Regions from separate parts of the Homo sapiens genome. Here regions 1, 2, 3 and 5 are each linked to region 4. Evidence: fine-mapped expression QTL. A gene starts in region 4. Each other region holds a variant in brackets. All regions are shown on one strand. Distances are between the middles of the regions.

Region 1 (5,104 bases), 250 kb after region 4:
CACATAAGTGACAACCTGACATTTTCACCATAGTCTGTTCATTTGAAGTGAGCCACTAGGTCCAGCCCACACTCAAGGAGAGACTACACAAGGGCATGAGCACCAGGAGGCAGGGACGCACTGAGAGCCATGTCAGATGCCGCCTCCCGCCATGTATGATGAAATACACTATAGACACAACTGTTTTAAGAGCCTACCAGTTTTATGAACCCAAGTATGTCTTTTTAGTAGAACATCTAAATCTAGACAGCTAGAAGAACTACATTTTATAAAAATCTGAATATTTTCTTTTTTTTTTTTGAGACAGAGTCTCACTCTGTTGCTGGTGCCAGAGTGCAGTGGTGTGATCTTGGCTCACTGCAACCTCTGCCCCCTGGGTTCAAGCGATTCTTCTGCCTCAGCCTCCCAGGTAGCTGGGACTACAGGCTTGTACCAGCATGCCTGGCTAATTTTTGCATTTTTAGTAGAGGTGGGGTTTTGCCGTGTTGCCCAGGCTGGTCTCAAACTCCTGAGCTCAAGCGATCCACCCGCCTCAGCCTCCCAAAGTTCTGGGATTATAGCGTGAGCCACCCTGCACCTGGCCTGATGAATGATTTTTAAATTGTGACTCCCCTATGCTCAAATGAGATTGGATCAAATGTCTTCTCTAGCAAATAAATAATTCCATAGCTAGAAAGATCTTTGGTAGGTAGTTTCCTTCCTCTTGTGTGTTCCCTGAGCTCTCCTACTGACGTTTTGGAATATTTTCACAGATTCTTGAATACTCCTCCCTGCCAGAGGTAAAGAGCTTAACTCTTATCCTCTTAAGTGTGGACTAGATTTCGCGACTTGCTTCTAATGGATAGAATATGGTAGCAGTGACAGTGTGTGACTTCTGAGAATAGCTGTAAAAGGCATCGTAGCTTCCTCATTGCTGTTTTTCTTGGATCACTTGCTCTGGGGAAGCCCAGCAGCCATGCCGTGAGGACACTCAAGCAGCCTTTGAAGGAGCTGCTGGTGAGGAACTGAGTCTTCCTGCTGACATTGACATGAGCGAAGCATCTTGGAAGTGGATCCTTTCATTTTTCAGGTACCGTGCCAGGGCCTGTGAGGGAACCAAGACGTGTAAGACATGGCCTCTCATTAGTGTTTAAGCAGTAGAGAAAGCTGGTGCCATCTCATTGTTCAGGAGATGAAGTGTGTGGCCGGGGTGATCCAGAGAGTCTCCTTGAAAGTACAGTGTTGAACCTTGGACTTTGGGGTAGAATTCAGACAGGGTGATGGACAGCTAAAGTGGTTCAGAGGCTGGGGTACAGCATGAGGTTATTAAAATGATGGGGCTGAGAAGTACAAGACCTGTAAGTGAAGAACTGGGCACCAGACATTGGCATGAAGAGAAAGAAGACACCTGTGTTCAGAAGTGAGCCTGCCAGGGCAGAGTTAAGACTTTTTGCTGGCCAGGTATGGTGGCTCACGCCTGTCATCCCAACACTTTGGGAGGCCAAGGTGGGAGAATTGCTCTAGACCAGCTTGGGCAACATCGTGTGACCCCGTCTCTATGAAAAAAAAAAAAAACGAGAGAAAAAAAGTTATTTCTCAAAAAATAGCCTTGGACTTGTTCAAATTTGGATCAGGTGTGAACTTGTCCCAGTGGAGCCATGGAGCCCAGGCTGTGTGTCAGAAAGCCTGCAATAGGCTTCCTTGACCCAGAAGATTTTTAGAGCCTCCATTACCAATCACGCTATGACACGTTTCTTGTTCCCATTGGGGCCTGTGTTTCAAACTTTGGGCTGGAAGAGAACATTCCCGTGACTACTCACATCATTTCTATTACCTACAGCTCTTCTCCCCTGTATTGCTAGTCTGCCTCTACCTTTTGAGATCCTACTCACTCTCCGAAGGTAAGGTGGGTGACCTGTTAATTTTAAAGGACTTTTTTTTGGTGGGGGGCACTAGCAAATAAATTAAATCTATGGATGTGAAGGGAGTTTGGTTATGACATCCACTGCCCCATTAACAGCCTTGTCCTTCCTCTTGGCTTCCCAAGCTGTGTGTTCTGTTGAAGAGGAGGCCTCTCCTTGCCCCAGGAATGGATCAGCCAGTTGGGATTATCTGTTGCCTCTAAACACTTGTAGTACTGTGTTGATGCCATCCCATTGTACTTGTGATTCCACGTTGTCACCTTAAGTAGATTGTAAATTCTTTTTTTTTTTTTTTTAAAGACAGGGTCTCACTCTGTCGCCCAGGCTGGAGAGCAGTGGCACGATCTCAGCTCACTGCAACCTCTGCCTCAGGTTCTGGCAATTCTCCTGCCTCAACCTCCCGAGTAGCTGAGACTACAGGCGCACGCTGCCATGCCCGGCCAAGTTTTTGTATTTTAGTAGAGATGGGGTTTCACCCTGTTGCCCAGGCTCGTCTCGAACTCCTGAGCTCAGGCAATCCACCTGCCTCGGCCTCCCAAAGTGGTGGGATTACAGGCGTGAGCCACCACGCCCAGCCAGTAGATTGTAAATTCTTTGAAGGCAGGTATCGTATCTTTCTGTGCAGTCAGCACAGCATTTTAAATGCAATGCTTGCTTATGAAGGGCTGTTTTTCTTTCTGGATTGTTGCGTGTGGCAGATGGAGTGCCACGCAACCAGACTTCTTGGCTACAACACACATGTGGCTTCTTTTATGGAAGTTGCCACCTGCAGATCCTTCACCACCAAGAACATGCTTTTCTGTCATATTGCAGAATCTTTGTGGAGGATCCTCGTTCTTCCTTAACTTCCTTTGTGCCACACGCTTCCCCACTTCACTTGGGCACCTTTGAACAGAGAAGCAGGATTGCTGCCTCCCCACCAGTGTAATAAATGCTCTTTACAAATGTCCCTCCTTGGAAGTATATCTTGTAGAAATCCTAGTTTCTAACTTCATCCAAGAAATTTCTAGACAACTTGTAGCCTAGATTATCCTTTAAGAGCCACTTACACTACTGGAAAACAACTCCACCCAGGTTCTTATTTGAGTTACAGGGACAAGAAGCCTTTGGATTGCAGGTTTAAAAAAAA[A/AT]TTTTTTTTTTATTGCTGAGACTTCTATTATGAACTACCACAGTTGACAAACTGTTAGTTTCCATAGCAATTTTAGACTGTCCTTAGGTGAAGGGTTTCCCTTCCAGTTGCTATTTAAGATGTGTGGAATCCAAGAAGTCACAAAAGGTATTTCATGTGTCATACCTTGGCAATGCGTGCTACTAATTATTTTTTTGTTCCTGTCGTTAAATATAGAGCCTTCTCATTTATTTTGTCAAATGCATTTTCCTCTACTACTTTTTTTTTTCTTTTTAAAGAAAGATGCTCTGTGAAAAGGAAGCCATTCATCCATCCAGGTGAGCTCTGGATGGGCGAGCCAGCCATGGGGACTCCTCCCTGGGACTGGAGCTCTTTTTGACTGAGCTGCACCTTTGAGCATCGAGTTTCTGTTTACCACCTGGATGCTTTCCATTTTGAACACATTTGGGCCTTTCACTGAAAGGCACTTTAAAAATTCAAGGTTTTAGCATCATCACCAAAAACATCTACTAAAATATGCATTTGTACCTGGAGTCATTTAAAACAAATGAGTTAACCTCCTGTGCTCTGAGAATAATCTTTTCTTTCTTCTTCTTTTTTTTTTTTTTTTTTGGTCAAGACAATAGTCTTCATGGGCATTAGGTGACAACAGCTATGCAATTTCATTTTAGTCCATAATACATTATTTAAAGAGGTTATTGAAAATGTTGATTCCTGGAGCTAAAGAAATGGAAATATTTAACCAAAAGAAGAGAACATTTGAAGACCTCAAAGCTTTCATGAGATGTTTGAAAGGCAGTTGAATGTGGAGAGGGTATGCTATCTGCTATGGTCTGGCTCTGTTTCCCCACCCAAATCTCACCTTGATTTGTATCAAGAGCAAGAACAGTTGGAGACAACTAAATCATGGGGGGCAGTGTTTTTCCCATGCTGTTCTCATGATAGTGAGTTCTCAGAGATCTGACAGTTTTATAAGGGGCTTCCCCCTTTGCTCAGCTCTCATTCTTCTCTCTCCTGCCGCCTTGTGAAGGACATGTTTGCATCCCCTTCCACCATGATTTTAAGTTTCCTGAGGCCTCCCCAGGCCTGTGGATCTGTGAGTCAATTAAATCTCTTTCCCTTATAAATTACCCCATCTCGGGTATGTCCTTATAACAGCATGAGAATGGACTAATACACTACTACCTGATACTCCCCGGGGAAGAACCCCACAGCATCAGGATAGGGGATAAGGAAAGCAATTTGGGTCAATGGAGGAGCAAATTTGCCAGCAGTTTGGAGCTGTTGATAGTTGGATTAGATGGTTTCATGAAGTTTTGAGCCTCTAGATTCAGAGACCAAGTGACCACCTTCCCCTTGCGCTGAGAGGGAATTTCTTCAACTGGTTGGAAATGGAATGATAGGTAGGATCCAGAAGGGCTATCTAACTTGATAATTTATGTGATTGTTTTCTCATTTAAGGGAGAGAATATTATCTACAGTGTTTCTGATTTTTTTAAGGGCCTTGGGGAAGGACATAATGAATTATTCAGAGACTTCTCTCTGTGAAGCAAGTTGCACAGAGACAGACAACTTGATACAAATTACGATTCTAAATTTGTTAGTAATATATTTTATTCATGCACTCTACTTACAATAGATTTCCTGCTTGACATTTCTTAGACATATCACTCATGATCCCACAGTTGCTCTTTGAATGGGTGCGAAACCTGTGCAAAAAAAAAAAAAGATGTACACAGTCTAATGAATTATGCAAGTCTTAAAATGTCTCAAGAAAAAGATTACTCATTAGGATTTTCGAATGAATAAATTCAACATAATTGTTGGTGCAACTGCTCTCTCATGTAATAGGTACCAAAATCTGATTCATGTTTTATATTGGAGGGACGGGTACTTTTCTGAAGAATTTTAATAAAGGCAAATAAATGCCTTTTCTAGGATGCTTTATAGTAGAGCCCACAAAGGTTTTCTTCAGCAATACTATCAGTGCTGCTTTTCTCTCCATACTTCCAAAACCTAGAATTTTTTGCCAGTACTTTTTCCCTGTTTTCTTCTGAGTGGTAAAATCCATCTG
Region 2 (5,104 bases), 520 kb after region 4:
CTTGGCTTTGCATTTTCTAACAGCCAATAAAAGTGGGAACCATGGTCACTTATGTGATTGTCATTACTGGAAAAGAGGAAGCATATGTGTTCCTTTGGGAAATAAAGCTTTTCCTAGCACTGAATCCAAAAGGAATTTCTTGAGTATAATTTTATTACCTAGAAAAGACACCAAGCAATATCAGAAATGATGTCCTCAACAACATTTTGAAGTTTTGTTGAAACAATAAATGCACTATCAAATTTCATAAAGCCTTTTTTTAGTGTTCTTCGTCAAGTTTGGGGCATATTAAAATACAACTTCATGAAGGTGACCGACCAAGAAACTCAACCCAAGTCTCCAGGTAAATAACCAATTATCTAGTCCAACTTGGTCCAAAAAAAGAATTTAGAATTCCTGGAGGAAAAGAACAATGAAATACCATGTTTTTATCTGTTAACTTGGCAGAAAATATGCTTTCTTGAAAGATTAAATCCCAATTTTGGCAAGAATTGGGAAAGTCTGCCCTCTCATGCCCTGTGGGTGGGAATATAAATTGGTACAATCTTTTTTAGAGGGCAATTTGGCACTAAGTAACAAGAGTCTTAAAAATGTGCTTACACACAGCAATTCTGCTTTGGGGGATCTTTTTCCTCTAAAGAAATAACCAAAAATGCACCAAAGACTTAGGTACGAGATGTTTGTTTTGCTCCGCCTCTTTGGGTGGCAGTAAACACAGATGGACCCAACCAGGGGCTGGCGCTGGAAATCTCTGGAGCCAAGGCAGTTCTGGGCTGGAAATCTCTAGAGCCAAGGCAGCTCTGGGAGATGGATTTTTTTTCTCTCACTCATGTAAGCTCCTCAGCCTCTTTCTCTTTTTGGAACTTTTTATTTTGGAATAATTTAAGACTCAAAATAATTTGCCAAAATAGTTCCCCTGTACCCTTCGCCCAGCTTCTTCAATGATAACACCTTACTTAACATTAGTACATTATTAAAACCAGAAAAGGGACACAGTAGAATTTTTTTTTTTTTGAGACGGAGTCTCGCCCTGTCACCCACCAGGCTGGAGTGCAGCAGTGCGATCTCGGCTCACTGTAACCTCTGCCTCCTGGGTTCAAGCAATTCTCCTGCCTCAGCCTCCGGAGTAGCTGGGATTACAGGAGAGCACCATCATGCCTGACTAACTTTTTTGTATTTCTTTTTTTTTTTTTAAATAGAGATGGGGTTAGAATACTCTTAACTAAACTATAGGCCTTATTTGAATTTCACCAGGTTTTACATACACAATACACTCATTATGTGTGTGTGTGTGTGTGTGTGTGTGTGACTATGAAATCATATGTATAGATTCATGTAACCACCACCATAATCAAGATCCAGAACTCTTCTATCCAGAAAGAAATTCACCGATGCTACCCCTTTGTCATCTTGCCCCACCCCCCACCGTAGCCCCTGGCAACCACAGCTCTGTTCCCCATCACTGTAATTTTGTCATTTCAGGAGTGTGATATAAATGGAAGCACACAGGATATAACCTTTAACCTCCTGGTGCATTTCTTCCTCCCCAGCCTGCATTTTCTCAAAAGGTCAACCGACCACAACTTCTTCTGGCCCCTCCTTAGCCTCTGATCATGCTTTTCACATCAGCGTCCATTGATGAGTGGGTCTCACCTGGTACTTTTGCCCTGAGAGAGGGAATCCTATGGCCCGGTGCATGTGTGGGTCCGGCCATGTCATCGGTCACTGACAAGTTGGCTGGATTTACTGTCAGGGGTCAGGCTCCCATGTCTGGTCCATTCATCTGTGGCGGAGCGGAGCAAGCTGTTTGACACAAAACAGGGCCACCTTGCCCATCCCGTCATCAAAGAGATGAACAAAGGGAGATCCCTTCTGAGAAGGGCTCTGCTAGGCGGATGCTTTAACTGCTATATCTACTTCACAGGTCATTGGAAAGAGCCTAAATTCTTGCTAATAGAACTCCAGTTTGGGGCTGATTTATGATAACCATGCCCTCCCTGGATCCTCCAGGGCCCCAGGGCATGGATGCTCTTGGGCATAAGCCCGTCATGGGAATTCCATTTTCCTTACCAGTGGCTGGTTTAGGCAGAGCCTGTGAGACACAACGAGACCCAAGTGAGAACTCCGAGGAGCCATTCTTGGCCTCCAAAAGTCCTGTGGGAATGAACTGGAGATCAGCTCGACATCAAAGAGCTCCCAAGGGTTTCTCAAATAGGAGATAGCATCATTCTGTGTGGTTTCTCCAGAGGGCCTTACTCAGGGAATATTGGACAGAAAACCGCTGCTGTGGCATGAGCAGTTTATAGCAAAACAAAACAGAACAAAAACCAGTAACTATGGAGAGAAGACAAACGGCCAGAGAGGAGATGCCGGGAAATTTTATTAGACTAAAAAAATGCAGTGTAATCATTTTGTGAGTTGACTCCAAAGGCCCCACGTGGTTTCTATGCCTGGGAAGGTTCTAATGCCTTCCCCAGGTACCTGGTACTCGAAGCCTGGTGTCCCCAGGCTTTGCTGCAGTTCCAAAGGAACAGAACACTGTCCCCTCGTCCAGCAGCGTTAGCCCACCCAGGGAGTGGACATCGTCCTCACCTATCAGTGGGGTGACTATATAACTAACTGTTATATATATAACTATATTCCAAACCAGGACAGGTGTGAAAGTACAAGAGAGAGCCATTAACTCTCCCGGGGTCATGGTCATGAGCCAGGACCACCCAAAGCAGCTGTAGGGTCACCCAGCAAGCTGCCTCACTGCTTCTGGTAAGAGCCCTGCCACC[T/TGC]GCCCAACCTCCCCTCACCTTTTGGGAGATGCCCATCCCCTTCTCTAAGCTTGTGACTCTGATATCATATCTATTTCAGGGCCTCTCAACCTCGACATTGCTGACATTTGAGGCTGCATTATTCTTTATTGTGAGGGGCTGTCCCATGCCTTGTAGAATACTTAACAGCATCCCTGGCCTCTACCCACTAGATGCCAGTGATAATTCTTCCCACAGTGCCTCTGGACATTGGGCAAATGTCCCCTGGGGAGCAAATAGCTCTAATCCCATCCTTCTGGCCCAGGTGTGCCTCTGGGTTAAAGCTTCCCTGGACAGTTAATGGCTTTCTAATCTTGGGGCCTAGAGAGACTGAGTCACAAGGCAGGGCAGGAGGCCACCTATGAGAATGGGCAAAATGGGGCTGTGGAGAACCCCTCAAGAAGGGGGAGAAATATGTTCTTTTTTTCCCCAAGGTTGTTTCTAGAATCCCTGCTATGACATGCAGGGGCTGGTGTCTCCATAGGAGACCATCCAAGCCTCCCAACCAAATGACCTCCATGCCCCTGGAGAACCAAGCGGGGGTACAGTCCAGAAACATGTTGCACCTGCAGTGGGAAGATTGTAGCTGGGTCACCCCCACCCCACTGGGACATGCCAGGCACATTGAATGAATGAATTCCAGTTTAGTCTTAAACTCACTGATGGACTCTGTGTGAGTGCATTTAATTTCTCTGATTTTTAATTTGCTCACTGGAACAACAAAGAAAAGATTGCTGATCTGCCTTACATGGGTGCAGGGTGAAATGACCTCCTCCAGCCCATTCTCTCAGAGGCCATTTAGGAGATCCAGAAGCATCTATTGGCGGATGGCCACTGCTGGTTACTGCGGGGTCTTTGTAAGGAAAGTGAGGCCTGGAGGGAGAGGGCCACTCCATGAGTACAATAGGGACTAACCTGCTGTTTCACCAGGAGCATGGTAAGAGTAGCAAGTCTCAGTCCTCATGTGACACCAGACCATAATGTCCTTGGAAGAAAATTAGGACTTGGTGGAGTGAGACACTTTGCTCTTAAGTAACTAAAAAAGGGGTGAGGGTCTGTGTCTTTCACTAGCAGGGAAATTCGTCAGGATTCAGAGCCAGGGGAGATGTTTTCCCATATCAATAGGGCCATACCCCCATGCCCGCTTGCTTTGAAGCCAGCAGATAGATGTGTAGGCAGAAAAAAGTCTCAGTTAACATCTAGCCCAGTGGTTTTCACCCACTGGTAACTCTGGCAATTACCAACCTTGGCAACATCTGGAGATATTTTTGGTTGTCACAGTTGGGAAAGGGGTACTACTGGTATCTAGAGGGACAGGGGCCAGAGAGGCTGCTAACCATCCTGCAGTGAACAGGGCAGCACCACGACCCCCATCCTGTCCCGCCCCCATCAATGATACATCAATAGTTTTAAGGTTGAGCTGGGTGTGGCTCATGCCTGTAATCCCAGCACTTTGAGAGACTGAGGCAGGCAGATTGCTTGAGGCCAGGAGCTTGAGACCAGCCTGGGCAACATGGTGAAACCCCATCTCTACTAAAAATACAAAAAAATTAGCTGGGTGTGGTGATGCATGCCTGTAGTCCCAGCTACTCAAGAGGCTGAGGTGGGAAAATCACCTGAGCCCAGGGGGTCAAGGCTGCAGTGAGCCAAGATTGTGTTGCTGCACTCTAGCCTGAGTGTCAGAGTGAGACCTTGTCAAAAAAAAAAAAAAAAATGTCTTGAGGTTGAGAAACCATGATAAGACTGGGACACTAGGGTTTGTCCTCCATCCCCGGGAATCCCATGGGGAAAGCTGGGGGTCTCCACCCTCCCCCCACCCATGGGAATAGAGGCAGGGGTTAGAGGTCGTATCTCCCGCTCCTCTGAGGTTGTCTTGAGCCATCAGTGGAAGAATTGCTTGACCCCATTGCAGAGTCCAGCACTCATGAGGTCTAGGGAAGACACCGAATGGTCCTGACCCAGGCCAGGAACTTTTGACTATGGCCACAGGGGCTGGCACTGGGCAATGCCTACAGACTCACAGAAGACACCTGACCAGGTGAGATCTAAGCTAGTATCCCCCATCCTCCCTTTCTGGGTAGGGTGGCACCTCCCTTCTTCCCCCCGGGGGGGCCACAGAGGGGCCCCAGCATGCCCAGGTGACTCATTACCAGGTTCATCAACAGCACCCAGAAAACGTTCTTCCTTTACTATTCCCTCCCTGCATCTCCTGTGATTACACACTACCAACACCTGCTCCCAGGACGGAGCCTGGCACTTTAGCAGACAACTGTGAATGATCTAGAAACACGACCCTCCCCGCAGGG
Region 3 (5,104 bases), 150 kb after region 4:
CCGTGCACCTCGGCCTCCCTAAGTGCTGGGATTACAGGCTTGATTCCAGCCAAAGTGCCTGGCTGACTCTTTGAATTAGAAGTTAAGGTGAGTTTTAGAACTCTGGTCTTTTCTGTGATTTGAAATGTTGCCTCTGGGGAAGGTGCTGTTTTCTAGTTTTATGAAATGATAGACTCTCTTCCCAACACACACACACACACACACTCACACATTCACACTCACACTCCCACCTCTTGAGAAGACCACAGGAGCTGTGGAGACAGTTGTCCTTGGTGTGGCCAGCCTGGTTGTGGGACATGGGCCTTAAGGTGCAGCACCCCCATTCACCTTCTCCAGGATGGAAACAATTTTCTTCTTCCTCATTGGCCTTGCTCAAGAAATATGCCAGGCATTTTCAATGTCTTCTGTCCAGACCCAGAAGGATACTCAGACTACTTCTGTTTAAATGGGGCTTGTTTTTCATAAGCAGTTGCATTGTTGATGTGGCTAAATTTAGACAGAACCCCATCTAGATTGTGGTCAAGGGCTATGAATGCTGCCTCCACTGAGCACCAGGTGGGCTTGTACATTTTGGTGACTCATTGCTGCTTGTGATGAGAGGGGCCTGCACACTTAAACCCCTCCAAGGCAGCACTGCCCTGTTCAGTCTTACCTATGACTCAACGTCAGGAAGCTGAGGACCCCGGTAGCCTCTAGAACTGAGGTGTACCCCTGGGCTGCAGTGGAAGAGGATCTTGGGGCCCTAGTGATCCCCTAGATCTAAAAAGCAAAGAGACAGCTTAGAGGAATAGAGGATTTGGTCAGGGTATGTGTGTGTTGGAGGGGTCAGGGCAGTTATTTTCTTGCACTGAATTCTGAGCATAAAAACTTCTAGCTTGCTTTGCTTTTTGTCACCCAGCGATTTCTAAAGACAGTACACTTGTGTGTTCAAATCCCTTTTCACACCTGGAGAAATTCACTCTTGACTCCCTTCCAGTGTAAGAAGTAGTTTAGCATAGTTCCGGAAACGCTTCGATATCAAGCCATCAAAAGACAGACTGCGAAGTCACTCCGAGTGTAAGAGCTCTCTGTATGTAGAGGACCAGCTTTCTGAGAATGTTTTGGCAGGGACTTGAAAATGTCAGTCATGTGTAGACAGGGAAGTGTCATACCATTAAGATGTATACGGGATGGTGACAGAGTGAGAGAGGCCTTGGGGTTTTGAAAGAAGGGAGTGATTTTTGTAGTCCCAATTCATTGTCCTCTGAGTAGCTCTTCCCTCAGCCTCTTGCATGCGACTTTGGCTGGTCGGGGATGCCAGGCGAGTTCTGAGCCGGAGACTCATGGGGAGTCCTCTTGTGCAGCTGACACCTTCTGGAGACACCTTCCTCACTCCCAAAGGCACGGGGCCTTAGTGCTTTCTGAGTAGCCACCTTGGACCATCGGTTCAGTAATTTGAATAGTAAAATGTGGGATGGCGTTTTCTTGCTAAAGTGCAGCTTAACTGGGGGAGTGAGTTGTTAAAAGAGCAGGGTGGTAGCATAGATGACAGGCGTTCATAAAGCACTGAATTTAGAGATCTGGACCTGGACTGTGCTGCTGAATGTGGAAACCTAGACTCAGTGTGACCATCTCTAAGCTCCTTTGAGCTTCTAGGAGTCTGTCATCAAAGGTGGTTTCCAACAGCCTCCAGGGCCCCCTGGCCCTTTGTGCTCCATCCCCACCTCCGCTCATTCCAGTTTCACCTGGGGCTATGTGGCTACCTCCTCACGTCTAGGCTCTCCTCCTTCTGAGATGCTCTTTCTCTTTCTTGTTTACTGGAGGGCTTGGCTAAGACCAAACTTGGGTACCCTGGGCAGAACTAGGGACTCCTGTGCCTCCTTTCCAGAGCATCGTGTGTGGACCCTTTTTGTCGTGTAGTTATTTGGTTATTTTTCTGCTTCTGTCGGGCAGTGGGTATCGACAGGTAAGACTGCCTTATTTGCCTTGGTATCTAGGAGCACTCAAAAGTGAATAGATTGAATGGAATTAAATCCTTGAAATTACAGTAGAAAGCTTAGGTTCTTTAGAATAGAATCGTGGTGAAAGATGGCCTTTGTGTTCTGTGTATTCTGTGCCCTTTTTCCGCTAACAAGTTGATATCGTGCTGTTATTTTGTTTTGTTGATAACATAGTGTGGACTTTGTACTTCTAAACCTTAGGAAAACGTGGATCATTAGTCATTTTTGTCACATTGCAGTCTGCCCTAATAAACATAGTATTGGAAAAACGAGATCTGTTAAAGGGAATGATGAATTTTGCTGCCTTGGAGCTTGTTGATACCTGAAAATTGGTTTCGGAAATCGAGACGCCTGATGGAAGTTTGTGTGTCGTTTTGGCTGCGTTAGGCT[C/T]TTCTTGAGCCCTATTAGGCTCGATGCCATTAAACTGCTATGCGTAATGAGGGTGACACGTTGCAGTGAACTCCCATCCTCCAAAGGCTTTTAAACTTTAGAAACCTGTGTATATGCTGTGCCTACCCTTTATAGTATATATTAAAATAAAGTCACACAAAAATCCAAGTTTAGTGATTAAAATAACATTAGAAGTGCATAATTCACGTTATAAGGAAAGTCTCTCCTTTCAGAAGAATTCACTGTGGCTTTCCCTGACTCTTGACATATGATTTGATTTACACCAAACCAAAAAAAATTCAGCAACATCACACATCCCTTTAAGCAATCAATGAAAATGCTCATTCAGTTTTACCCCTCAAAATGTGCTTTAGATAAGTGAGTCTAATGGTATCAAATAATGCCTCTGTGGACAGGCATAAGTGAGATTCTGGCAAAAAAAAAAAAATCTAAAAGTTTTTTAAACTTATTGAATCTGTCAGTCTTGCTCAACTTTTTTTTGTAGTATTCATAGTATTTTGAAGAGAGTAGGTCCAGCTTTGAAAAACTCTAAACTTAAAAAAAAAAAAAAAAAAAGGTGGCCAGGTGAGGTGGCTCATGCCTGTAATCCTAGCACTTTGGAATGCTGAGGTGGGAGGATTGCTTGAGCCCACAATTTCCAGATCAGCCTGGGCAACATAGTGAGTCCCTGTCTGTACAAAAAATGAATTAAAAAAATAGCTGGGTGTGGTGGCATGTGCCTGTAGGCCTAGCTACTTGGGAGGCTGAGCTGGGAGGATTGCTTGAGCCCAGGAGATGGAAGTGGTAGTGAGCAGCGATAGCACCACTGCACTCCAGCCTGGGCAACAGCAAGACCCTATTTCAAAAAAACAAAACAAAACAAAACAAAAGCAAAAAAAGCATGAGCTTTAAAGTGAATGGATAGGTAGAGAGATTGAGGAATTTTTTGGTAACTCCTTAGCTATATTGCCTTTAAAAAAAAAAGTGTGTATATTACTTTCAGCAAAATTATTTCAGCAAATAAGTATAACACTGCTCTTGTTTATATTCTTTCAATTGAACCTCGCTGCCCAACCAGTAGTACATCCTCAGCCTTTTTTCCTCTCCCCAGATAGCTCATCTTCACGATCCCTAGCACAGCACTAAATGCAAACAAAATGTCCTTACATGTGAGTCAAGTACAGTTTAGTCTGGAGAAAAGGCCCCTGTGTCTGAAGCTGTTCCTTCTATGAGCCAAACATCAAGTGTTCAAGTCAGAGGGACTACACAGACCAGGACAGGGGGCTGGCTTCCAGGGCTGAGGTTGTTGCTGTAATTGTTTTTGGGTGTGCACCTGCAGCGCCTGTGTAAAGGTGGAGACAGTGGTGGGAGGAGTGAAATCTCCCACCGTGGTTGGATGCTGGACGAACGGCCTCAGGTGTAGGCAGCTTTTTTGTTGTTGTTTTTTTGTTTGTTTTGTTTTGTTCTGCCATGCGCTTCAGTTTGGAAGCAGCCTATATTGTACACGTTGATTACTTTGAAGAAGTGATTTCTTATTTTGCTTCATGTTCATTTTCAAGGAGGTATACCTTGGGGAGTGGGAGTGTTTTTTGTTTTTGTTTTTTTTTTAAGCATTGTTTATAGCCACAATAGAATGTCATTGGAAAGAGTGGAGGCTTTGGAATTACATTTTTATCCCATACTAACTGGGTGACCTTTGACAAGATCGTTAACTCATACTGAGTGGAGTTCCTGTTTCATGCTGGGAATCATGCTGGGACCTCAAAGACCTCCTGTTCTGGAGAGAGAGATGCTCATCGGGGGCCAGCAGAGCCAAGTTCACAGGACAGAGCAGGGATGCCCCAGCCAGTCTGCAAGAATTGGAACAGCTTGGTGGAAGAGAGACACAGTCCCTCTTAGTCACAGTCTCCTTGTCTGGAAGTAGGGGCAATGGTACCGCAGAGGGGTGGTACTGAGTGCTAAGTAAAACGAGTTAGAAATGCCTTTCACAGAGTCTGATGAATGAACGTGGGTCCCCATCTTTGGTACCTGAAGACGGCCATGTCCCACAGGTGTGTGGTCAGAGGGTGCACAGTTCACAGAAGGCCTCCACAGTGAGGTGGGATGCAGGTGGAAAGAGAAGTCCCAGGAAAAGGGAGGCAGGGGAGGAAACAGAAAGCTGCGGTTGGAAGAAGACCTCAGCACAGGTGCACTTTTTCTCTTGTGGATTAGTTATTACCGGATGACTTTCATCCACACACTTAACACTCTCTTTGCAGGGACAGTTTTGGGGAAGGGTAGGCGTCTGCTTTCACAGAAGGTAATTACCGCAAAAGCTGGTACCAGCTCATGCTGTTCTGATGTTTTGGTTACGCAATCATGGGCCCCTGTACTAGTACATTTGTCTTCATAAGCTGTGCTGAATTATTTTTTAAAACCGCTAACTGATGCGATTAGTAAAACATTTTGGTTTTTAACTTTTGATGAAAATAGCACTGTTTGGAACTGTGATGCAGGGGTTTACTGCTGAGTGAAGTTCTAGAATTTTGCTGAAAGTAACATGACCTGCTCTGTGGGTCTCACTCTGTCTCTCTGTTAAGATTGTTGAGTGAATGGAAGAAAAGGAAGACTTGGTGTGTTTCCAGTGATCTATAAAGAAATGATGAAGTGAATATGTTCTGTGGATCTCTGTTCTCTCTTTGACTCTATTAACCAAGTAATATCTTAATTTAAAATGATGAAATTTAGGAAATTAG
Region 4 (5,104 bases):
AGTCCAGTTAGCTGCATAGAGCAGCAAGCTGTAAATTGTATCTGAAAGACCGCTGGCTTCAAACCATTGGGATTCTGAGTCATCTGTTTGGTGGTCTGACTTTGATCCCAGCCTCCAGCCTCTGGGTCCCCCTGGTCTAGGTGACACCTCTCCAAACAGTGTTGAGCTTACTCCTCAAAGGCAGAGGACAGAAGCGGATTCTGAAAAACTCTGCGTTCAGTCTGACATTCCCTGTTCTTTTCCCGCACCTTCCCCATGAAATAGCAGACTCGAAAATAAAATTTACTCATGCCCTCATGACTGACTGACTACCCCCAACCCAGGGGGTTCTCCCGTCCTTAATCTCCTCCATTTTAGTTATACCATGGGGACTTCAGGTAGGCTGCAGGAGTAGATGCTGGCCCACATTTCCATCAGTCCTTGCTAGGGACAGTGTTACACTGCTTGGTAATTGATAAATCCCCACTCTGGGTGCACAGTCCCCTCTCCCCAACTGAGCTAAGATGTGGGCTATTGATGCTTTCATGCCCAGCCCAACCATGAATCAGTTGACTTCCAGTCAATCATTCCTCCTCGTACCCACCAGGAACAACACTAACAACTGAGGCAAGAATGCAAAGCCACAACCTAAAAGAAAACAGACACATTGTTCCATCTGATCTACTGACAGCTAAGACAGTCACTCCATGGAGTACACAGGAGATTCGCAGGCTGCTGCCAGGGCTCATTCTGTTCTTGTCTTTCCTATGACTTTACTCAGGATTCCATTATCAGCAACTTCACCCTCCAGCTCTCTCCATCCTCCTATGAAAGCCTCAGGGACATAGAAATAAGCTTGTCTTTGTAAAATGTGCCAGGATCTCCGTCTTAGATAAAAGACGACTATGAGAAAAGAAATTATTTCATTCCACTATGTTCCATTTGATTTCTGCTTTCAAGCAATAAACCACCATGGCTTGAGATGCTTCTAGTGTTTCATGGAGAATTGGGACTATTTCCCCAACATGCCCTGCTCTTCATTCCTCTTTGCTTCTTCCCTTTTTGACTCCTTGGACCCGAGGGGCGACCATGAGTGGCGAAATTTCTGACCAGCTAGAATACCAGGCAGGTGCAGGCTCTTGAAGCACCAAGACTGGCTCAAGAGATTGTAAATGGATCAGTCAAGTGCATGCACCACTGACGGCCAGTCAGGAGAGCTTCCATTTGTTAAAAATATAAAGGACATTCCTATCATCAAGCATCACAATTAGGCAATCTCAAAGAAAACAATATTAGCTCTACTTGGCCTATGTTACATGCTCTAAGAAAGTATTTTAGAAAAGTTTTTTTTTTCAACATAAATTTATTGAAGGATCAAACGTGTTCTCTTTCTTGGTCTCTTTAGCTCGTAAAGTCGTTTTGGGGATTTCGTGAATCTGGCAAATAAAACAAAACACCAATGAAACGCTGAGAAATGATTATTTCCCTTATGTATTTTAGCGGCCTCCAGGCAGACCTGATAAATATTCAGCGAGTGATTAGCTGGTGCATCCCCACCTGCGTCCTTTGCATAGCCATGCCCGCTACTCTTTCACAGGCAGTTTTACTTGGTAAGTTACAAACGTACTGGCTGCACTCTGCACCTGACAGTATTGCAGTAATTAGCTTGGGATGCAAAATGATTTCTAAATTAAGGTCCTGGACTTGTAAAATCAAGAAAGCCTGATAATCAACATCGTCGCTCTGGTGGCCATTGAATAACGGGATAAATACCTAAGACAAGTCCTTTAACCATCCCACGTGGTGATAAATGCCCGACGTACAAATTAAAAGTCTCTACCACACGCAGGTGAAATAAGGTATAGGTCAAGAAGAGAAGGTAGGGGAAAGGGTCAATGCTTAATTATTTAAAAATCGCTCTCTTCCTCCTGTAGGAAGGTCTAGGGGCTAGGTCTTTTAGTGCACACGTGATGAAAGTGACATTTTGGCCAGGTGAAACCTCAAGCTGGTACAGGCAGCTAAAACACGGGCGTCGTGCCCTGGAGACACCGGGGGTCCTGAGGATGGGGAAGGGGCTCCCTGCTGCGGGTGCTGAGGGGTTAGGAGGTGAGCACCGGGCGGGAGGCTCCGGGGCAGGGGCTGCGCGTGGAGCCCACTCCCGGACGCGGGCTCCTCTCGGCCCGGCACGGGTGGCGCAGGACTCCGAGCCCGTCGACAAGAGAGAGAGCGGGAGTGGGAGAAGGAAGACCGGGAGAGGAGGAGGCCGGGCGGCAAGAGCGGAAGAAGAGGAGGAGAACTGAGGCGGAGGAGGGCGAGAGGGAGGAGAGCCGGGCGCAGGAAGGGGAGGAAAGAAAAAGGCGGCGGAGGAGCGCGGACCCGCCACTCCCGGCCTCCTCCCCCGCATCCCCACTCGGGCCGGCCCTCCCCCGGCCGCCGCCGCCGCCGCCGCCGCCGCCGCCGCCGCCGCCGCCGCCTCCCCTTGCCCAGTGTTCCCAGCACCGCAAGGCACTCGCTGCCTCCTCCGCACTCGGTCCGGTCCGCTCAGCGCCGCCGCCGCCGCACCCTCGCCGCACCCCCGCGCGCGCCCGGCCCGCGCGCCCCCGCCGCTCGTCCTCGCGGCCTCGCGCTCGGGGCATGCGCGGTGGGCGGTGCCGCTCCGGGCCGCCTCTGCCGCCGCGAGTAGGAAGCGCGAGCGCCGGGCACCGGGCTGTCAGTGAGCCTGGGGCCAGCGGGCGAGCCAGCGGCTCCGGCTCCCGCTCCCGCTCCGCGCAGCACCAGCCCGACTCTCCCCGGCCCCCGCCGCGCCCCCTCGCCGCGACCTCGGCCACCGGCCCGCGCCCCGCGCCCGGGGTCGCCCCGAGCCCGCACCTCTCCCCCGCCGCCCCCGCCCACCCGGCCCTCCGCGGCCGCAGCTCCCCGGCGGAGGCAAGAGGTGGTTGGGGGGGACCATGGCTGACGTTTTCCCGGGCAACGACTCCACGGCGTCTCAGGACGTGGCCAACCGCTTCGCCCGCAAAGGGGCGCTGAGGCAGAAGAACGTGCACGAGGTGAAGGACCACAAATTCATCGCGCGCTTCTTCAAGCAGCCCACCTTCTGCAGCCACTGCACCGACTTCATCTGGTAGGTGCCGGGCCGGGCACTCCTGCCCCGCTCCTCCCCGCCTCCGGGTCCCGGCACCCGGCGCTCCGGCGCGTCCGCCCCGGGGCTGGCTCACTCCGATAACTTGGAACCGGCGGGAGTCCGAACTCTTCGCCCGGAGTGACACGCGCGCCCGGCCCTGACACCGGCGGGCAGGACTCCCGGGACGTCGCCGTCCCGCCACACACACCCCCTGGCGCGAGAGGGAGGCTGGCCCCGTACGGTGGCGAAGGGGATCCCTCTCCGGGCCGGGCCCCTCACCTCCCCGGGCGCGCCCACCCGCACGCACCCAGCGGAGCGGCCGCTTGCCGGGGTGTGAGCCCAGGGGACAGGGGAGGAGGAGAGGCCCTAAGGGGGCAAAGGTTCCCGGAGAAACGCGCCCCGGAGTAACGGGGGAGCGGCGGCGATTGCACTGCGCGCGGTCCAAGTTGCTGGCGAGCCAGGCTGGGCGCGTTCGGGGTGGGGGGGTTGTGTTTGTGCTTCCCATCGGGCTGGACTGCGCTGGCATCTTGGGCCCCTGCCTACTGTAGGCTGCATCTACTGGGCACGGAGAGACTGACTTTTCTGAGTGAGCAGAGAGAGAGAGAGCAAACTGTTGAAAGCTTGCAGTGGGGGAGGGGGAGTTCTAGCAGGCAAATGGCACAAGGGCAGAGGGACTCATTTAAAATAGACCCTGTCGGCCAGGCGCGGTGGCTCACGCCTGTAATCCCAGCACTTTGGGAGGCCGAGGCAGGCGGATCACCTAAGGTCAGTAGTTCGAGACCAGCCTGGCAAACATGGTGAAACCCCGTCTACTAAAAATACAAAATTAGCCGGGCGTGGTGGCACACGCCTGTAATCCCAGCTACTCGGGAGGCTGAGACGGGAGACTCGCTTGAACCCGGGAGGCGGAGGCTGCAGTGAGCCGAGATCGGGCCACTGCACTCCAGCCTGGGTGAGACAGAGCGAGATTCCGTCTCAAAAAAAATGAAACAGACCCTGTCAACTCGAGATTAGACCTGTAACCCTGTTGATGAGGGCAGAGGCCTTATTTAAGAAAAATAATATAAGGGCCAGAGGTCAGAGATCAGGTAATCGCCAATGAATTCAGGCATTCTTAACTCGGAGGGTCCCTGGGGGCTTATGGAGAATCGATACATAGAAGGGCTTCAGGGGTCTCTGAACCCTGTAAAACTGAGGGAAATTGTGTTTGTGAATCTTTTTCCTGGTGAGAGAATTACAGCTTTCATCTGATCCTCAAAAGGTGTGTGACCCTTCTTCCCAGATCCCCGTCACCACACAAAAGTTTTGAAAGCTGGAACTAAAGGAGCTCTAGGTCCTCTAGTTAGAGCAGCAGTAGTTTGGTTTTTCTTTTAAGTTGCCCGACGTCCTGACTCTTCTACCTCTTCTTTGTGGTGTAGGAAGTTCCGGGCAAGACAGAGCTATGGCTAGGGCTTCTTAGCTCCCTCTCCTTCTAGGCCAGGGGGAGCTGCACAGGGTGGCAGTCACGGAGTGAATCCTGCCACCAGCCAGCTGTGTGGCACAGGTATCTTGGGCCACTAGGGTGAGCATAGTATGGATGGCTCTGTCGGAATCCATCACACCTGGGGAAAAACATCCCAAAGGGCAGGTCCCATGATCGTGGTGCGAATAAGGTGTTTAATTTTTCCTTTCCTTTTTAGACATCTGCTCCCAAGTACACTTTTATGAAAAGCACAGCCACCTCTATGAGTGATTTCCACTGTCTAGTCGGCATATGAAGCGACTGTGCTCAAAGGAGTAGGTAGTCGTAGATAAGGCTATTTAAAATAAAAATTTCGGAGCATCAGGGCAAAGAGAATATTGCATTTGGTTAAGAGGAGGTCAGCTGTGAGAGTCCATTAAAAGGGAACAGACTGCTGGTGACTTTTGCAGGAAGTAGGAGAGTTAGAAAGGGACTTGCAGCATACTGAGGCTAGCTATTGTCTTTCCACTATCAGTTGCCCTTGAAGGATCAGCCCCTGGTGA
Region 5 (5,104 bases), 86 kb after region 4:
AGCTGGGATTACAGGCACTCACCACCACACCCAGCTAATTTTTTGTGTTTTTTAGTAGAGATGGGGTTTTGCCATGTTGGCCAGACTGGTCTTGAACTCCTGACCTCAGGCGATCCGCCCACCTCGGCCTCCCAAAGTGCTGGGATTACAGGTGAGAGCCACCGCGCCCAGCCAGGCACAGTTATTTTTAAGTTTCTTTTCCCATGCTATAGGTTCATTTTGCAGATGTAACCGCTTTTGAAGTCTCGTTGTGTCGTTTAAGAACTGCTTTTGAGGTATCTCTGCCCTACATTATATCATCCTACAGTTCTGAGACTTGCTTTTTTCATTAACAGTATAGATCTTGGACCTCTTTCACCATCAGCACAGAGACATAACTTATTTTGCAATTGTTCAGTAGTGCTTCGTTGTGTGGATGTGCCAAAATTTATTTAAGCAGAGCCCAGTTGATGGGCATTTAAGTAAAAAACATGCCGTGTTTTGCCTTTTTAAAACAAAGCTGCAGTGAATATCCTTTGACTGCCTGGATTTGAATCTTGGCTCCAGCAGTTGCCAGTTCGTCGACTCTGAGCAAGTTGCTTTATCTCTCATGTCTGCAGGTTTCCCCTCTGTAAAATGGGAATATTAATAATATATGATGGGTATGTAGAATAAAATAGCCAGTGCATATGATACCCAGAATAATGCCTGGGACACAGTGAGTGATCAGTGATCATTAGCTCTGTATGGCTGCCTGTGCCTTTGCACACTTGAGAGTAAGTCAGTCAAATAAATTCCTAAATGCTGAATTGCTGGGCTGCTGGTTCAAAAAATGTACAATTCAAATTTTGGTGGATACTCCCTGTTGCCCTACACACATTATACCAAGTTATTCTTCCACTAGTAATTAAACTTTTAACCTCTAAAAGCCTTTTTTTTTTCTTTTAATGTAAGGCTTGAAAGCAAGAACATTCCTTCATTACTTCCTCCTACTTATCTTTACTCTTGGCCTTACTACGTCATGACACATCTTATGAAATACTGGTGTGATAATAAGCACTTTGTGCAGCCCTACCATGGAAGAATTGGTGAAAATGTAAAGGTTCTCAGTGGTCTTCAGACTTGTGTTTGAGTTTCTCTCTTGCAACAAGGTGCCTGACTAAGAGAGTAAAGGTTACTTCCTGCATGTTTAATGGGGCTTGATATTTGCATATGGGCAGGTACATCCTGCTTAATGAACAGTGTTGGGAGCCATGTGGATGATTGACATCAACTTGTAGTACAACAGGAAAACATTCCTAGATTAATGTTCCTTTTCACTGGGTAGGGCTAGAGGGCAACTGCAACGAGTGAAATGCTAGGCTGCAGGTAGATGGCTTGTCTTGAGCTATGAATAATATGTTTGGCAGCAGCATGGGCAGAAAAGTTGAGATTTCTGGATACAGGACCTGGTGAAGCAGGTTCTGTCACAGGGTCAGATCACCTCTAACACCTGGCCATCCCCAGTGCAAAGGAAAACTAGGAGAGAGAGAAGTGAGTATAAGAGGCAGCTGAGGGACTCTTGACAAAGTTGAGAAGGATCTGGTGTCCTGGGAGAGCTCCTGTCTTCTGGAATTAGTGATGCATCTTTTGTGGAGGCTCCTGATGGCTCAGTAAAAGGAGCCTTTCATCTTGCCCTTCCTACAGGGCTGAGAGGGGAGGGGTTCTTGGGACAAGTGGCTTTTAGCAGAGAACAATAGAAGCCGTAGGCTGGGCTGTCACTTGCTTTGCTACTTCTTAGTTTGTAATCATCCTCTGTGTGTCCCTGAAAGTCCCCTGGTTCTCTCTAAACTGTGGGGCTCCAACTGAATTCCTGTCTGCTCCCCAGGGGTGCCCCGCAGCAGTTAGAGCAGCTTGTTGAGAAGGAGCCGCAGGGGTAGGGCAGAGGTGGACCGGAAGCCGGAGGAGGCCACTTGACATGGCGATTGGAGCCCTCCCAGCCTGTGCTTTAGACCTGCCAGATTCCTACCCACCTCACCTTGGAGTGGGACATTTCTTTTCACAGTGCCCAGGCTTAACTATGCTGTCCCCGGGTCCATTCCCAACTGTTCCTATTCAAGATGTCTAGACCTTTGTTCCCTGCCTTGGCATTTTCCTTTCCTGGTGTGGAGTATCTCTTTTTGAAATAGCTATCTCAGCTTCAACATAGCAGAGCGGAAAACCTATGTCTGGGCTTGAGGCAGGGGGAGGAAACC[G/A]TAGATAGATCCAGGAATGGCCAAAGTAAGCAGAGATCCGTGAGCCTGGACGTGTCATGACATAACAAGGATATGTGGGTGGGAGGGGCAGGGATGACATCTTTAGCTTTCTGTGAAATCATAGACATGCTTTCATTATTTTGTAGAATCAAATAATTTTGAAGATAGAGATATCTGAGTCCATCGATACTTACCTCTTTTTTTTTTTCTTTGGGACGGAGTTTTGCTCTTCTTGCCCAGACTGGAGTGTAATGGCGCCATCTCAGCTCACTGCAACCTCCGCCTCCCAGGTTCAAGCGATTCTCTTGCTTCAGCTTCCCAAGTAGCTGGGATTACAGGTGTGCACCACCACATCTGGCTGATTTTGTGTTTTTAGTAGAGACGGGATTTCACCATGTTGATTAGGCTGGTCTCGAACTCTTGACCTCAAGTGATCCACCCGCCTTAGCCTCCCAAAGTGCTTAGGATTACAGGCATGAGCCACTGTGCCCAGCCGATACTTAGCTCTTATTGGCCATAGTTCTCTTGGAGAATTTGGGGAAAAGTATGGGCCTCTCCACACCATAAGTATACATGATGTACTTACCAAACACGTGCATGCAAGTTTAGGGGTTCACAGGCCCTGGAGGTTTGTCTGCACATCTGCACTGTGGGGCAGCTGCACCTTCCTATACACAAAGACCCAGGGTCGTGGAGAGACGGCACTTGTGTGGGTCACAGAGTTGGAGACAGTGTACCAGAAGTCATTGGTCCGCAGAGCCGTGTCTTGCATTTTATACTCCAGTACGTTGCTTCGGTGGGAAGGGTGACCTCATTTTTTGTTTAATTCGAAGACCTCACTGGGAAAGAAACACATAGAGATGTGGAAGGAAAAAGAAAAAGCTGTGGGAAATCGTGAATTCGTGGACATTGATGGTGAAAGGTTCATTTCAACCCTTGATGGGAACATCGTGATTCTGTTTAAGAAACAGCATCATGTATATGCCTTTCTAATAAAACGGCGCGGCACCTTCCCACGCAACTTGCAGCCACGAGGTTAACCAGAGATAAACGTGGCTTTCCTTTTCCTTACATCTTCCTGCAACACCCTTCACAATAGCCCACACCAAGAGAGTTCTTAGGGTAAATATCTGTGGCGTTAAATTTCACTTTAATACAGAAAGGCTGGCCTTGAAGGGGAGGGAAGAGAGGAGCACGACTCACTTGGGCCTCCCAGAGGCAGGCTTGAGGACCTCTCCTGCAGCGTAGTGGATGGGGAGGAACAGCACGCGGGGTTCAGGCTGACCGCAGCTAGACTCCTGGGGGGTCTCTAGCTCTGTGACCAGAGTGGCTCTGCCTCAGTAGCCTCCCCTGCATAAGGACACCTTTGCAGGGATATCGTAAGGAATGGAGAGACTGTATTGAAAAATATGCCGGAAGTATCTGGTTTCTATGGGGCCCTCAGATGATGGCCAGCATCGTCTTCAACAACATCTTTCATTGTCATCATCATTGCTGCCATCGTTGTCCTGGGCCAGGATGGTTGGCAGTGAGGGGGTCTGGCATGCCCATCGTGCTCTGTGGTGCTCTGGTGCTGTTTGAAACATGCGACTGGTTCTTTTAGAGATTGGCTGAGGAGCATCACCTTTTGTGAACCATGCTGATCAAGTTCATCTATTGTTTGATGTTGGTTGAGAAAATCATTGATCCTAACATTTCATTCTTACACATAGCCTTAATGTTCTTTTTAAGAAAGAGATAGAAGGGCTTTGCCCATGCAAAATGCACACGAATAATGGCTTACCCACTTGCAAATAATCCATGTGAAAATAAGTTGCTTGGAATAACATAAAATCATGAAGAGGCCGGGCGCAGTGGCTCACGCCTGTAATCCCAGCACTTTGGGAGGCCAAGGCGGGTGGATCACCTGAGGTTGGGAGTTCCAGACCAGCCTGGCCAACATGGTGAAACCCCGTCTCTACTAAAAATACAAAATTAGCCAGGTGTGATGGCGCATGCCTGTAATCCCAGCTACTCGGAGGCTGAGGCAGGAGAATCGCTTGAACCCAGTAGGTGGAGGGTGCAGTGACCTGAGATTACATCCTTGTACTCTAGCCTGAGCAATAAGAGTGAAACTCAGTCTCAAAAAAGAAAAAAAAAATCATGAAGAGTGGACCTTTTTGCAATTTATATATATGTTTTCCTATATTCTGCGATGCTTATAATCATGATGTAAACTAATCCTTCTTTGGCTGCAATAGTCAAAATATAGTTATAGGAAATAATATTGAGAAGAAAAATATATTCCTGAGCTAACAAAAAGCCATATAGGAAAGAAATGAAGTGTGTACAGTGGGCTCTCGCTCAGCTTTTTGTTTTTTAAGAAACACTCCATTTTAAAGAGAAAGGCCCAGCCATTTCCACAGATGTGTTTCTCTCTCTGAGCTGTCAGTAGCATCTGCGGTTATTTTCTGGAAAATGGAGAGGAGATGCCATGAACTTGGATTTCAGAGTTCCCCTCTGATTATCAAATTGACCCTCTTGGTGATGAATCCCACCATTGGTTCCCAAAAGGTCATACCTTAGTCACTTTTTAATTATGTGACCCCCCTGGGGTGCACAAAAGGAGCTTCATGGGGACTTCATGGGCCTCTCCACTGTCTGCAACTTGAAGCCTGATTTGCAAAGCCATCGGAAGAGAATTCCCTATGGGGTGAGCAGCCATAGTTGGCAAACAGCTCCACCACCACAGCCTTGGAGAGGGAGGGCGGTGCAGACTGACCCATCCAACCAAGCCAGGAGTCAACGCTGGGGCCATCAGCATGCGAAGCAAAGGAACCAAGTAGCAGAGGAAACTCAGCAACCCCAAAGAGCTGCTGAGAAGAAATCAGACCCTCCTGAAGACTTCTGGT

Alleles and levels. Positions count from the first base shown, and alleles are read on the strand shown. Sizes are in standard deviations (SD) of each study's normalised expression. Not every link is listed here.
With allele T in place of TGC in region 2, the expression in prefrontal cortex of the gene that starts at base 2,689 in region 4 is higher (small effect, 0.22 SD a copy in GTEx).

Evidence for each region. PIP is the estimated chance that this variant, and not a neighbour inherited with it, causes the effect. A credible set is the group of variants that fine-mapping cannot tell apart.
Region 1: its variant is the best candidate, but not a certain one, in a credible set for the expression of PRKCA in whole blood (INTERVAL, PIP 0.61).
Region 2: its variant is the best candidate, but not a certain one, in a credible set for the expression of PRKCA in prefrontal cortex (GTEx, PIP 0.62).
Region 3: its variant is the best candidate, but not a certain one, in a credible set for the expression of PRKCA in gastroesophageal junction (GTEx, PIP 0.60).
Region 5: its variant is the best candidate, but not a certain one, in a credible set for the expression of PRKCA in whole blood (TOPMed, PIP 0.85).

Annotation. Positions count from the first base shown.
Region 1 is chr17:66,552,700-66,557,803 of GRCh38, forward strand. The region is part of intron 3 of PRKCA (protein kinase C alpha); the gene reads left to right. Among named protein-coding and RNA genes, the nearest start is that of PRKCA-AS1, 140 kb to the left of the region's middle. The variant A/AT (reference allele first, on the strand shown) is at 3,031.
Region 2 is chr17:66,819,805-66,824,908 of GRCh38, forward strand. No RefSeq gene overlaps it. Among named protein-coding and RNA genes, the nearest start is that of CACNG5, 13 kb to the right of the region's middle. The variant T/TGC (reference allele first, on the strand shown) is at 2,781.
Region 3 is chr17:66,446,055-66,451,158 of GRCh38, forward strand. The region is part of intron 2 of PRKCA (protein kinase C alpha); the gene reads left to right. Among named protein-coding and RNA genes, the nearest start is that of PRKCA-AS1, 32 kb to the left of the region's middle. The variant C/T (reference allele first, on the strand shown) is at 2,370.
Region 4 is chr17:66,299,925-66,305,028 of GRCh38, forward strand. PRKCA (protein kinase C alpha) reads left to right here and starts at 2,689. Exons shown (of 17, transcript NM_002737.3): 1 at 2,689-3,100. The coding sequence starts at 2,928. RefSeq lists an enhancer at 3,483-3,984.
Region 5 is chr17:66,385,887-66,390,990 of GRCh38, forward strand. The region is part of intron 2 of PRKCA (protein kinase C alpha); the gene reads left to right. Among named protein-coding and RNA genes, the nearest start is that of PRKCA-AS1, 28 kb to the right of the region's middle. The variant G/A (reference allele first, on the strand shown) is at 2,214.